Linked DNA regions of Homo sapiens: all the other regions are reported to be linked to region 3. Evidence: microRNA targets listed by miRTarBase, many of them from high-throughput screens and not tested one by one. Region 3 holds a microRNA gene; each other region holds the end of a gene's coding sequence.

Region 1 (3,111 bases), not on the chromosome of region 3:
GCACTGGAATGAATGAAAACTGATTATATTCCGTTGGATTCCAAATTTCTACCTTATTGGGAAAGTAGAGTACATCATTCTAGCCGAGGGATGAGAGGGCAGGCAGATGAGGATAGCCACACAGGTATACGCAGTGTTGCCTGATGATTAAACCTGACAACTATTTTGGGAACTGAGATTTCAGATACACTATTTAGAATTTAGACTGGCAGCTTCCAAAGATTACTGTTCACTTGAGTTTGTAAACTGGAACCTCTATAAACTTTAGTGCACCTGATCTGGCTCTAGAGTACACTTTACAATGCATTTAAAAATAAAAACAAACAAACAACAAACTTCCACAGATTGCCCTTTCGGGATGTGTCATTTTTAGATGCTCATTCTCCATTTGGTGCTACCATATAAACCCCTTGAAAAGTTCAGGGGATTCTTTCTGATAATGATCAGAAAAGGGTGAGGCCTGGGATATAGCGGGAGCAGCAAAAAAAAAGTTACTCTCCTCTTACTGAAGATACTCTTCTGAGAACTTCCATTGTCCCTTAGGAGGAAGGAATGGAATATGGAAGTTCCAGAAGATACTGCTGCCTTCCGAAGATAGTTACAACAGGATCATAACTATGAACCCTAAGATTACTTTTTTTTTTTTTCCTTTTTTTGAGACAGAGTCTTGCTCTGTCGCCCAGGCTGGAGTACAGTGGTGCAATCTTGGCTCACTGCAAGCTCCGCCTCCCGGGTTCACCCCATTCTCCTGCCTCAGCCACCCACGTAGCTGGGACTACAGGCGCCCGCCACCACGCCCGGCTAATTTTTGTATTTTTAGTAGAGACAGGGTTTCACCGTGTTAGCCAGGATGGTCTTGATCTCCTGACCTTGTGATCCACCCGCCTCAGCCTCCCAAAGTGCTGGGATTACAGGCGTGAGCCACCGTGCCTGGCTGAGATTACTTTTTTATGTAGCACCTGCCTTGCTTCTGTGTCTTATAAAGACACAGAATTCTTACAAAGCTATGAAACAGAGTCAGGAAAAATTACTCATGGCACTTAAAGATGTTTAGAGACTGTAAAATGCCTTCATTTTTTTTTTCTCAATGCCCCTGTGAGGTAGGTGTCTGTGGGGAAAAAGCTGAGGCACGGAGGGGTTAAGTCTGCTCACCTTTTCATTGCATGATGAGCCAGTGGTCCAGCTAGCAGGACCAGGTGTCCCAGCTCCCTAAACTTTATTCACCCTGCTTCTCAGAAGGCTTATTTATGTTACACAACAAATACAGCAGGGGAAAGTTTTCTTTTCATACATTTTAACTAGTTGGCTATTTCTTATTCTCACCTTGAACATAAGTTATCTCAGATAAAACCAAATAAAAACAAAACAAAAAAATCAATATTGCCTAACAGTCTGTGTCAAATGCAGCCTATTCTGCACTAGTGATTGAAAAAGCACAGAATATGATTCAAGTAGAAGTATTTGTGGGTGCTATGGTGTTCCTGTTGACTCAAGCCAGGCTGTGAGTAAAGTGTCGCTTTAGACACTACCCACTGTACTTTGTAAGAACTTCTTTGGCCTGACACAAGGGAATAAATCTACCACCCCTGTTTCATGGTGAAACCATATTCTGAAAGATATTCTACACATGCTGGCCCTGCCTGGAAAGGGGACTCTCAGCCGTGTGATGTGTATTACCGAGTTCATGCACAACTCTTTGAAGCTGGACATGAAGGTCACAGTCTCCTGACATAAAGCTCACAGGACAGTTCACACTACGGACAGAGGGGCAATACCACAGGGTACATGCACTAGCACCATGCCACAGAAGTCAAAGAGAAGGACAAGAAGCCACCACACAAGCATCTTAGAGTCCCATCTGGTATGCCATTTGCAGAGGCTACCTCTGGTAAGGGGAAGACTGAAGAGGTCCTGTACTCCTTTCCATAATAAGAAGAAGGATCAAAACAGAGCACTCATTGCTGGCTGCTTTGAGCATACCGCCTATCCAAATTTCACCCCTACATAAGTTGGTAACTTTCCTTGTAGATATTCAAAGATAATATATGTCATTTCTTCATCAAGAGAGAATCATGTCAGGCAAAATTCAAAAGTTAGTTACAAGACGTGGATGCAGGGCTCCAAGGCAATTTACACCACTACTCTTGGAATCGAATTCATGAGTACTCAGGGCACTAGCTTTTAGACATGCAATACTTCTTTTTGAGACTTTTCTTTCCCCTATAGTATCTAAAATGTAAATTCCACTCATATCATGACCCCTAAGTCTAATGGAAGATCAGATATTTGGTTTCAGGGTCTGAAGTAAATCACAATACCAAATCAGATGCATGTATCTATGAATGCTTTTTGCCTTGATATTAATGCAAACGCCTGCCCTCCCAAGGCCTGTCCTCCCCTTGAGCTCATCTTCCAGGGGGCTGAGCCTGCTCCGTCCTCTGCATATGCAGGACCAGAGGGAATCATTCCAACTCAGAGTTTCACTGGGATACTAGGATACAGCATAGCAGCAATTCATGCACTTTATTTCTAAAAACCAAAGCTCAGGCTGAGCTGGTCACTGTGCAAGATGAACCAGCAGGACATTCTCGCCTCGAATGAAAATCTGATTTATGTGTCGAGTGAATACCTGCTGGTAATCCACTTTGGGCTTTCGCTTTTTCTTACGGGACTGGCCTCTGGAAAGGGTGGTAGCCCTGGAAAAGGTACCTCCCACACTGGAGCCGTCTGTCCGTGTAGTCCTCCCTGACAGCTCTGACCTGGACTCCTCCCTTGCAGAGGCCTGCAGGGAAGAAGGGACAGAGCGGGAACGCTTGTGTGAGCCCCGGCCAGTGTCTGCTCTTCCCCACACTGAAGCCAACTTCCAAGTGGATGTCTGTGAGTATCTAGACAGAGTGGAATCTTCAACTGCAGACTTAGAATCTGCTTCCTTCTTGGAGGAATCTTGAAGTTTCAGCCGATCAAATAGCTATAAAGCAAACAATGATAAATATTAGCCTTCTCTTTAGCCTTCATCACCCTCTTTCAACATACAGAAAAAGACCAAATTCTTTAATTATGTTCTGTGGACTCCTTGCTTTGCAATTTTTTAAAAGTTAGTAATAAATCTTT
Region 2 (3,000 bases), not on the chromosome of region 3:
TGGGTGTCTTTAATTCTTGACTCAATTTCCAAGTGTAACAAAGCACTCCCCCAATTTCCTGTTCTTCTTTCCAGCCTCTCTTGACCATCTCAAGAAAGGACATGGGTATAACCAGGATCAGGAAGGGGAATGAGCCATTCTTGTCTCTTGCATCCTTTTTTTAAGACCTGCTTGGGTTTTTGAATAGTCCAAACCCTGGCAATGCTTTCAGCCTTTTTGACCTTCAAACTCAAAATCAACATGACTTGGGAATAGCCAAGAAAAGGGCCCAAAATACCAGTTTCCCTTGAGGCCTAATTGTTAAACAGTTCTCAAAGAATAAGTTAGACTTACAGCAGTTCCATCCGTGAGATGGGGGATCAGGTGAGAACCCATATTGTGGGCACCAAGAGAGGCCTTCCTGGATTTAAGGGTTTGCGCCATAACAGAGCCCAAGCATGCGTAAAGCTCTAAAACCTAACGTGCTCTGCTAAAAAGCCCATGAGGTCCATCTCACAGGGCAGCAATGACCAGTGTGGTGGGCTTGGGCAGCCATTGCACAAGAACTTCTGCCAAATGAAGAAGGGCCAGAGATCATCTCATCCAAATGTCATCAGCACCAAGAACTCATGTTCAAACAACAGCACACATGTGGACTGAAGGCTCACAAAAGGCCCCCCAGTGGCCCTCCACACCTCATTCAAAACCTGCTCCATCTCTTCTTTCTCTACAAGAGACTTGAAACCTCAGAGAAGGGGAATCTCTAACAAGAAAAAAAATTGAAATTCCTCTGAGAGGAGAAACCTATTACCTGAGAATGCGTGGTCAGGTTTTTTGGACAAATGCAAATGTGATCCAATTACCTGTGAATGTTCTCAGAGCTTCTTTTCTTCTTTACTCTTCTCTAGCCATAATGTGGCAATATGGCCCTCTGGGAGGTGTGTGCTAGCAGCCATGGGAGTAGAAGGCAGATGCAGGCCCCAGGAAACCTTCAGGAAGACCAGGCTGAAAACAGTCTTCAATCTCAAATCAAGCACCTGTGTCCTCATACTTGCTCAGAAATGGCTTCCACATTCCAAACAGGATTAGACTGTTTGCTCTTACAACACTAACCCTTCTGTTTTTTGAGCTTCATCAATTGTCTACTTGTTTCCCACTGGACGTTAGTAGTGTCTTCTCAACATGGGTCTATGAAAGGAAATTGAGTAGTCAAGGCTGATTCTATATTTCATCTTTGTGGCTACAAACTCCAAAATAGAAATGGCTTAGGATAACACAATCTTTACAATGCCACACCACTCCCTAATTAAATTATTTATACTCACTGAAAATGGAAGCATAAATAAATATTCTCACTTTTCTTTAAAGACTTTAAATGGGAAAGCACTTTGGGGATTTTAAATGCAAAGATGGATGACGCACTGAGAGACAGTGATAGTTCAACACTACTGTAATGGTTTCTGGGGAGGAAACTGGCCTCTTTCAGGGAAAAATGTTCTCAAATATGGGAAACAAAAGGATTATAGATTACACATTACACAAAAAATTAAAAATACAGTGGCTTTATTTCCATTGTTTATAGTCCCCAGTATCCCATCTGATAAGAACCTTCAATTCTATAAACAAAAATATTTCAAGAAAGTATGTTACACAATAGTACATATAAGTAATAGTTTGGCAGAATTTTAAACTCTAGTAGTTCATACCCCCAAAAAACAAATTTTAAAATTCAAAAATAACAGTTTTATTTAACATATGTTACACCTTAACATTTAAAATATCATGCTCTAGTTAAATATTTCATCAACAACACTGTATACAAATAAAATATTACATAAAATATATTTAAGAAAATGTTTTGGTCTTTGATCTGAACAATAAATAAAAACACAGGCACTTCTACATAGACAGGGAAGCAGTTACTACTCAATAATAATCTTGTATAAGCAGCATGTGAAAATATGGCAATAATAAATTCTGGAATTTTAAATTGACAAACCATCTATGCAAAAGTCTGTAACTTCAACCTTTTCACTCAAGTTCAAAATACATATGCCTTCCTGGTCCATATTGAAAATTCACTAACACGATATGGTTGTTAGCGGCAATTCAATCTTCAGTTGGCCATTAAGGAATCACACTGATTTTCAAATACTAAAATTACACTATGATACCACCAGGAAACCAAATACAAGAAAAATTAAACCCTCTTTCTCCTTATTATGACCATAACATCACAACAAGATAAATTAGATGAGTGTCACACCATGATTCTCATTTTGCAAAATTAATTAACACACAAAAATACTGTTGGGGTGGCAGGAAATTTCCACAATTGAAAAACTGAATTCCACAACTGACAACTGAAATTTCAGTTTTCTAGACAATTTAAAATTTACCCAAATCCCATAAAAATAAACATAATTCCATTTCACGAAAACCACTGGATAATGTTTAACAAAGTCTTTGTAGCCAATAGGTTTATAAATACCTGAATTACAAATAAATCAGTCATTATTATGGGAAGTAGGAATATTATAGAAGAGGGCAAACAAAATCACTTAAAATGGCCAAATTCCAGAAACAGGATTTCAGATAAGAGGGTACAAGTTTTTTAAAAATGACCACTAGCCGGTAAGATCAGAACCAATCATCCTGCCATATCATCCATAAAAAAAAATTACCATCTTCCGCTTTCCCTCTTCACGTGAGTACCAAATTGAAGGGTTTAGAGGCCCTCAAATGGGTATCACTCATAAAGGCAATTTTCATGGTTTAATATAGAAATTACTCTAATGTGAGAACACAACATGGGAACTATTCAAAATACACCTTTCTATGCAAAATTGAGTTTGTATCTATTTTAGCATTTTAAATGAGCACTCTGCAACTGAGACCAAATATCAATCATCTCTTGAGGTTTTCTACTATGTACTAACATCAGATCTACATAGGAGCAGATGTTATTTTTGTTTTTCTCCTCGATATCAAATGTCCTGAAGCCTTTGTGTTTCTCTGGAA
Region 3 (3,111 bases):
AGGATTACAGGCATGAGCCACGGCATCCGGCCACAACCCAGACATTCAACACCTGAATGGATAAACTGTAGAACACCCATGGCATGGAACAAATTACAAACTCAACATACCCAGCAACCTGCAGGAACGTCAAAGGCATTAGGCTGTGGGGAGAGGCCAGTCCAAAGGTTAAATATAGTTTGGTTCTATTTACATGACATTCTAGAGAAAGCAAAACTATAGGGATGTAGCACCGCTAAGTGGGTGGGGGTGGAGAAGCACATGACCACAATAGGACAGCATGGGAAGTGTTCTGGGGATGGACCTGGTGTGCCCTACGTGTGCAAAAACTGCACCCCAAGAGTCAACTTTACTGCATGTTTTCAAAATATTTTTTAATGTGATGAGTGGTCTGGGAAATCCTCGCCTAACAAAGTGGCTTTTGATTCAAGGCCTGAAGAAGGGGAGGGCCCACTCCAGGTAGATGACATGGCCAGGGCAAAACCTGAGGCCAGAGTGTGCCTGGGGATATGAGGGACGTGGAGGGCACCCATGTCCAGCCCACCTCAGTGCTTCTGCCTCAGTGAGAAGGGGAGGGAGTTGGCCACAAGGGGGCCTGGGTGCATCAAATAGGAAGCCGGTGAGTCAAGCAGCTCGGGGCCAGTGGGGCTGGAGAGATGCCAGAGCCAGGGGCTATGTGTGGACTTAGGGTTTGGAACCATTAAAGGGCTCTGCGACGGGAGTGGCAGGATATGACCTATTTTTGAGACATTGTGCTGAGAACAGGCCTTAAAGGCAGAAGCACAGAGCCTGGCTCGGGGCGCTGCAGTACTGAAGCCCCATAGTTGAAAATTATCTTCCTCCCAGCTCCTACCCAGGCCCTCTCCCTCTCCAGATGCCTACAGCACACCAGACAGTAGGCTCCTTGCTGGCACGAACCACAGCCTCCAGCTCATGGCTCTCAAATGCAGTGCAGGTATGCATGGTTCTCTTCTGGGCATTCTGGGCAGGGTGCCCTGCAGGAGCCACAGTTAACTGCAGTGCAACTAATGAGACACTGCACATCAGGGACCACTTGCCATTCATGACTGCAGGCCCCACCACAGCTCCACGATGTGGGCCCCACTCACATCCCATCCAGGGCAGGAACGTGAGCCATGGGGAGGCTAAGAGCAGACCCAGGGTCACACAGTGATGAGGCTGGCACTGAGGGCTCCCACCTCATCACACCCTGCAGCACACCAGCAGGGGCTCAACTGATCCTGCAGGCACAATTGACCTCCGGAAGAGCCAGGCCTTGGCGGGGAGGGGTGAAGGTGGGGGTCAGGGGGCAGCATATCTGCCTGGAGACATTCAGTGGCCAGGTTGGGGGCAGCCCAATTTCCTGAGTGGAAGTGGGGGACACAGGCAGGCTCAGGCGTTTCTCTGCTCTGGAGGAAGGTACTCAAGGCCCAGGTGTCTGAAGATGTCTTCCTCTGAAGCCGCTTGGAAAAATGTCTTCTGCAACAGAAGCAGGACTTCCGTGACCTAGGAGTCTTGCCACTGCTGCTTCCCTGCAGGAAGACTGAGGGTGGGGAAGAGCCCAGCGCCGAGGTGGGGTGTGCTCTTGAGGGCCAGGAACTGTGTGTGGAGACCCAGATTCGGGTCCTATGGGTTTCAGGCTGGAGGGGTCTGGGGCCATTTCAGATTGTGGGTCAGGGAGCGGACTATGGGTGCTGTTTGCTGTCCCCAGTCCCCAACAATGTACCTGCTCCGGGTCAAACAGCCCATGGCTGTTCAGCCACAGGCCCTTCTCCTTCCGGCTGAAGCGGCGCAGCTCCCGCTGGAAAAGCTGTAGGGAAGGGATTGTCCTCAGCAGGGCTGGCCCAGCCCCACCCCCAGGCGGCCCAGCGGCACACTGCCTACCTTGGAGCCAGTCCAACCGAGCAGGGCGAAAGGGAACTGGCTGACGGGTGCAACTACCAAGTCCACTCTCACGGCCTTCCAGGATGGGCAGGGCCTCGTGGATCCCCCCACAGCAGCCCCTGGAGGTTGTGGTAGGCGGAAAATGCAGAAACTTCTCTCAAAAGCGTCCATGTGGCTCTGTTGGGCCAGGCGGGTAGGGGACTCACAGCAGCTGTGCTGGTGCTGGTGGTACAGGATGAGGCCCTGTGGGGAGAGGCGGGCGTGGCTGAGACCATCCGGTGGTGTGGAGAGAGCAGGAGGCAGTGGCATTGGCCAGCGGTGGCTCTTGGGGAGCAGGGAGGCCCTCACCTGGTCCTGCAGGCGGCACATCACTCTAGGCAGCAGCCCCGCCTCCTGACCCTCCTTGGGGTGGGTGATGAGGAAGTCCACGTCATGGCCCTGCAACTTCCCCCTGAGGGCGTCAGTCTGACTCTGACTCAGGGACACGGCCTGCTCACTCCAGCCCCAGGCCACATCCCTTCCAACGAGTGGGCCCGCTTCAGGGTCCCCGACTCAGGTCCCTTCACTGGGGAGGGGTCTGAAGCCAAGCCAGAGGGGCACGTCGGGCCTTCTTACCTGCGGAAGCCGCCGGTCAGCGTGACGGTGGCCCCAGGCAGGGCCTGCCCCACAGCTTCCTCCACCACCTGCTGCAGGGCATCTACATCGGACCGCAGGACTGGGGTGCTCAGGTCCTGGTGGTGCTGGAGCCCTGGGGGCAACACCGGCCCTCCTGACTCACCCAGCCTGCCCACCACACCGAGCCCCCATCCCTCACCAGCATGAGGTGATCAACCTGGGGCCCCGTCATTGCAGGACCAGGAGAGGCCTCCGAGGAAGGTGAGGCTAGGGCAGGGAGCAGAGTGAGATCCCAATCTAAGCCTGACACTATCTTCTCTCCCCCTTTAAATTTTAAACTTTTATTTTGAGACAGTTGTAGATTCACTCGCAGTTAAAAGAAATAGCACAGAGGGAGATCCCATGTGCCTTTTACCCAGCTCCCCCAAAAGGTTAACCCCTTACAAAACTATAATTTTGCAACCAAATATAAGGATACTGATGTTGATACAGTCATGCCACAGGCTATCTCTTTTGATGGCTGTTTTTCCTTATGCATAAAGTGGGACCAAGAGGTGGTAAAAGGATGGAAGATGGCTTTGCCATGACGAACACCTCACTCTGGCCTACTTC
Region 4 (3,111 bases), not on the chromosome of region 3:
TTCCATAGGTTTGGGCTTAGAATCCATGACCCACTCTTACGGGGCTTGGACCGAAGAATGTGAGGGCAAAAGAAAAGCTCAGTAGTAGGAGGTTCTAATCCTATTTCTGCCCTAGACCAGTCATGTGACCTTGAGCAAGTCACTTTTCCATTTTGGGTTTGTTTTCCTTTCAGGAAAATGCCAGGGTTGGTCCTGGACGAGACTAGTTTTCAAATCCTGCTTCTGAAGAACACCGGGAGCCCGTGGCTGGACCAGGTTCTTTGTCCTAGATCGAGCAGTCTCAGGCTGGGAATAGCTCCAACATTAGGTTTCTCTCCCGTAGCATTTTCTTAAACCGTTAGCAATCCTTACTGTTTCCCAGCAAGGATTCACAGATAAAACAGTGAATGAGGGCTGGGCGTGGTGGCTCACACCTGTAACCCTAGCACTTTGGGAGGCCAAGGTGGGGGGATCACGAGGTCAGGAGATCGAGACCATCCTGGCCAACATGGTGAAACCCCTTCTCTACTAAAAAATACAAAAAATTAGCTGGGTGTTGTGGCGCGCTCCTGTAGTCCCAGCTACTCGGGAGGCTGAGGCAGGAGAATTGCTTGAACCCGGGAGGCAGAGGATGCAGTGAGCTGAGATTGTACCACTGTACTCCAGCCTGGCGACAGAGCGAGACTCCGTCTCAAAAAAACAAAAAAAACAATGAAGGAACAACTGGGAAACGCAAATGAATGGGGAATTGGAAAATGGATGACCATATTTGGTTTGACAGTCTTCTTGTTTCTGGAAACTTCATGGTTATGGTGTTATATTACTCACACCATTGTTCTGGTTTCCAAAGCTAAGTTTCAATGACTTTTCAGCACGCTTCATAGAGGACTCTAGGACTCCCCAGTGCCCATAACCTGAAGAGACTGGAGAAATGCTGGAGGCAACACTCTCCAAGGACCTCCCCAGTGATGATCTTTTGTTTTCTCAGTGATGATTTCTTTTTTTTTTTGAGATGGAGTCTCGCACCTCTGTCTCTGAGGCTGGAGTGCAATAGCGTGATCTCAGCTCACCGCAACCTCTGCCTCCCGGGTTCAAGCAATTCTCCTGCCTCAGCTTCCCAAGTAGCTGGGATTACAGGTGCCCGCCACCACATCTGGCTAGTTTTGTATTTTTAGTAGAGACGGGGTTTCTCCGTGTTGGTCAGGCTGGTCTCGAACTCCCGACCTCGGGTGATCCTCCCGCCTCAGCCTCCCAAAGTGCTGGGATTACAGGCGTGAGCCACTCTGCCCGGCTTTCTCAGTGATGATTTCATAGCTCCTCAGAGCCCATCTTTGAGGAATGCATGCAGAACACTGTGGCTTACGTTCGTTAACTCATATAATCCCCCTTTCATTTTCCCAACAGCGTCATGAAATCAGTACTATTATTATATGCATTTTATAGATGAGGGGCCTGAAGCTCAAATAGGGTTAACTGCTCCCCTGAGGTCACACAGTAAGTGACAGAGCTGGGACTGGAAGCGAGCACTCTGATTCCAGAGCTCCCTTTCTGACCCAGTATGCCTGCAGATCTCTGTCATTCATGCTGTCACCAAGGATCAACAGTTCTTCCTTGGACACGTGGAAAGAATGATCTTCCTCATCCCCTTTGGCTAATGAGATGTGAGCAGAAGTGATGACATTTATCACTACCACATTCCCTGTCCTTCTGTAATAGTTGTAGAAACACAATGAGGAAGCCTCCCTCAACCTGGGTCTCTGTGTGAGGATGTTGTGGAGTAGAGGCCTGCCCTTCCACCCCCACCGCTGATCTGCAATGGGCATGCAGTGTAAACAAGAATTAACATTTGCCATGTTTTTTTTTTCTTGAGACGGAGTCTCGCTTTGTCGCCCAGGCTGGAGTGCAGTGGCGCAATCTCGGTTCACTGCAAGCTCCGCCTCCTGGGTTCACGCCATTCTCCTGCCTCAGCCTCCTGAGTAGCTGGGACTACAGGCGCCTGCTACCACGCCCGGCTAATTTTTTGTATTTTTAGTAGAGACGGGATTTCACCGTTTTAGCCAGGATGGTCTCGATCTCCTGACCTCGTGATCTGCCCGCCTCGGCCTCCCAAAGTGCTAGGATTACAGGCGTGAGCCACCGCGCCTGGCCCCCTTTGCCATGTTTAAGCCACTGAGGTGTGAGTGTTGTTACTGTGGGATAGCCTGGCCCATCCTAACTAATCTAATGCTATACTGCGTCCTGTTGATTATCTTTGGCTTCAATCCCCAAGCCTGCCTTCTTCCAACCCCCTGAAAGCAATGGCTCCACATTGATTTGAAAAGCAGCAAGAGCCAGCCTGGCCAACATGCCGAACCCCACCTCTACTAAAAATACAAAAATTAGCTGGGCGTGGTGGCGGGCGCCTGTAGTCCCAGCTACTCGGGAGGCTGAGGCAAGAGAATGGCGTGAACCAGGGAGGCGCAGGTTGCAGTGAGCCAAGATTGTGCCATTGCACTCCAGCCTAGGCAACAGAGCAAGACTCCATCTCAAAAAAAAAAAAAGAAAGAAAAGCAGCAAGAGAAGAGGGGAGCTAGTCCCCCAAACATAGAAGTGGGGATGTGTTTTGAGAGATAAGCCCATGCTGTACCACACTCTGGAGCAGAGGTTATGCTGAATGAAATCTCCACCCAGCCCTGGAAGGCCACCAACAGACATTCGAGCTTCAAGAAACTTCAAGTTTCTCTCCTATACTCATTTATTGGCTCTCCTTAATTTTATTCCGTGTTTTTAAAGTAGGAACGACTGGGCTGGCAGGAGGAGGGCCGGGCTCTCAAGTCCTGGGGATACTGCAGGCTGACAATGACCTTGCAGGCCTGGATCTGAACATCTTCCTCAGGGTGGATGACCAGGGCAAGTAGTCGGTCTGCCAGTCGGGACTCTTCCCCAAAGAGGGATTCATGCAGGGACTGTTCGTTGTAATGCCATTTCACCACGTGGTAGTGGGGTGCGTTCCGGCCCTCACTCAGCCGCTCAGCAAACACCAGTACCTCATACAGGAGACTCCCTGACTGTGTGGGCTGGAACAGGTTTAGGAAGTTGGAGTGAACCTGTGATGGGAATAGAGAAAGAATGGGAATAAACTCCTAGGCAAGT

Evidence for each region. Region 3 holds the annotated microRNA hsa-miR-6838-5p (AAGCAGCAGUGGCAAGACUCCU, at 1,509-1,530, opposite strand). A microRNA usually pairs through its seed, bases 2 to 8, with sites in the 3' UTR of a target mRNA and lowers its output. Matches are read on the target gene's strand: a 7mer-m8 pairs with bases 2 to 8, a 7mer-A1 pairs with bases 2 to 7 and ends in A, and an 8mer does both.
Region 1: miRTarBase lists LSM11 as a target of hsa-miR-6838-5p. Seed matches in the 3' UTR shown: 8mer at 2,505-2,512 and 7mer-m8 at 476-482.
Region 2: miRTarBase lists B3GNT2 as a target of hsa-miR-6838-5p. Seed matches in the 3' UTR shown: 7mer-m8 at 1,925-1,931.
Region 4: miRTarBase lists ARMC12 as a target of hsa-miR-6838-5p. Seed matches in the 3' UTR shown: 7mer-m8 at 2,528-2,534.

The regions. Positions count from the first base shown.
Region 1 is chr5:157,754,711-157,757,821 of GRCh38, reverse strand. LSM11 (LSM11, U7 small nuclear RNA associated) reads right to left here. Exons shown (of 4, transcript NM_173491.4): 4 at 1-2,968. The coding sequence ends at 2,558. Among named protein-coding and RNA genes, the nearest start is that of LSM11, 13 kb to the right of the region's middle.
Region 2 is chr2:62,223,257-62,226,256 of GRCh38, reverse strand. B3GNT2 (UDP-GlcNAc:betaGal beta-1,3-N-acetylglucosaminyltransferase 2) reads right to left here. Exons shown (of 2, transcript NM_006577.6): 2 at 1,526-3,000. The coding sequence ends at 2,843. Among named protein-coding and RNA genes, the nearest start is that of MIR5192, 19 kb to the right of the region's middle.
Region 3 is chr7:44,071,899-44,075,009 of GRCh38, forward strand. MIR6838 (microRNA 6838) reads right to left here and starts at 1,535; the gene lies at 1,480-1,535. It overlaps POLM (DNA polymerase mu), which reads right to left. Exons shown (of 11, transcript NM_013284.4): 7 at 2,500-2,632; 8 at 2,233-2,335; 9 at 1,885-2,127; 10 at 1,727-1,810; 11 at 164-1,479. The coding sequence ends at 1,393. RefSeq lists enhancers at 2,201-2,400, 2,471-2,540.
Region 4 is chr6:35,748,492-35,751,602 of GRCh38, reverse strand. It overlaps ARMC12 (armadillo repeat containing 12), which reads right to left. Exons shown (of 6, transcript NM_001286574.2): 6 at 2,524-3,065. The coding sequence ends at 2,733. Among named protein-coding and RNA genes, the nearest start is that of ARMC12, 13 kb to the right of the region's middle.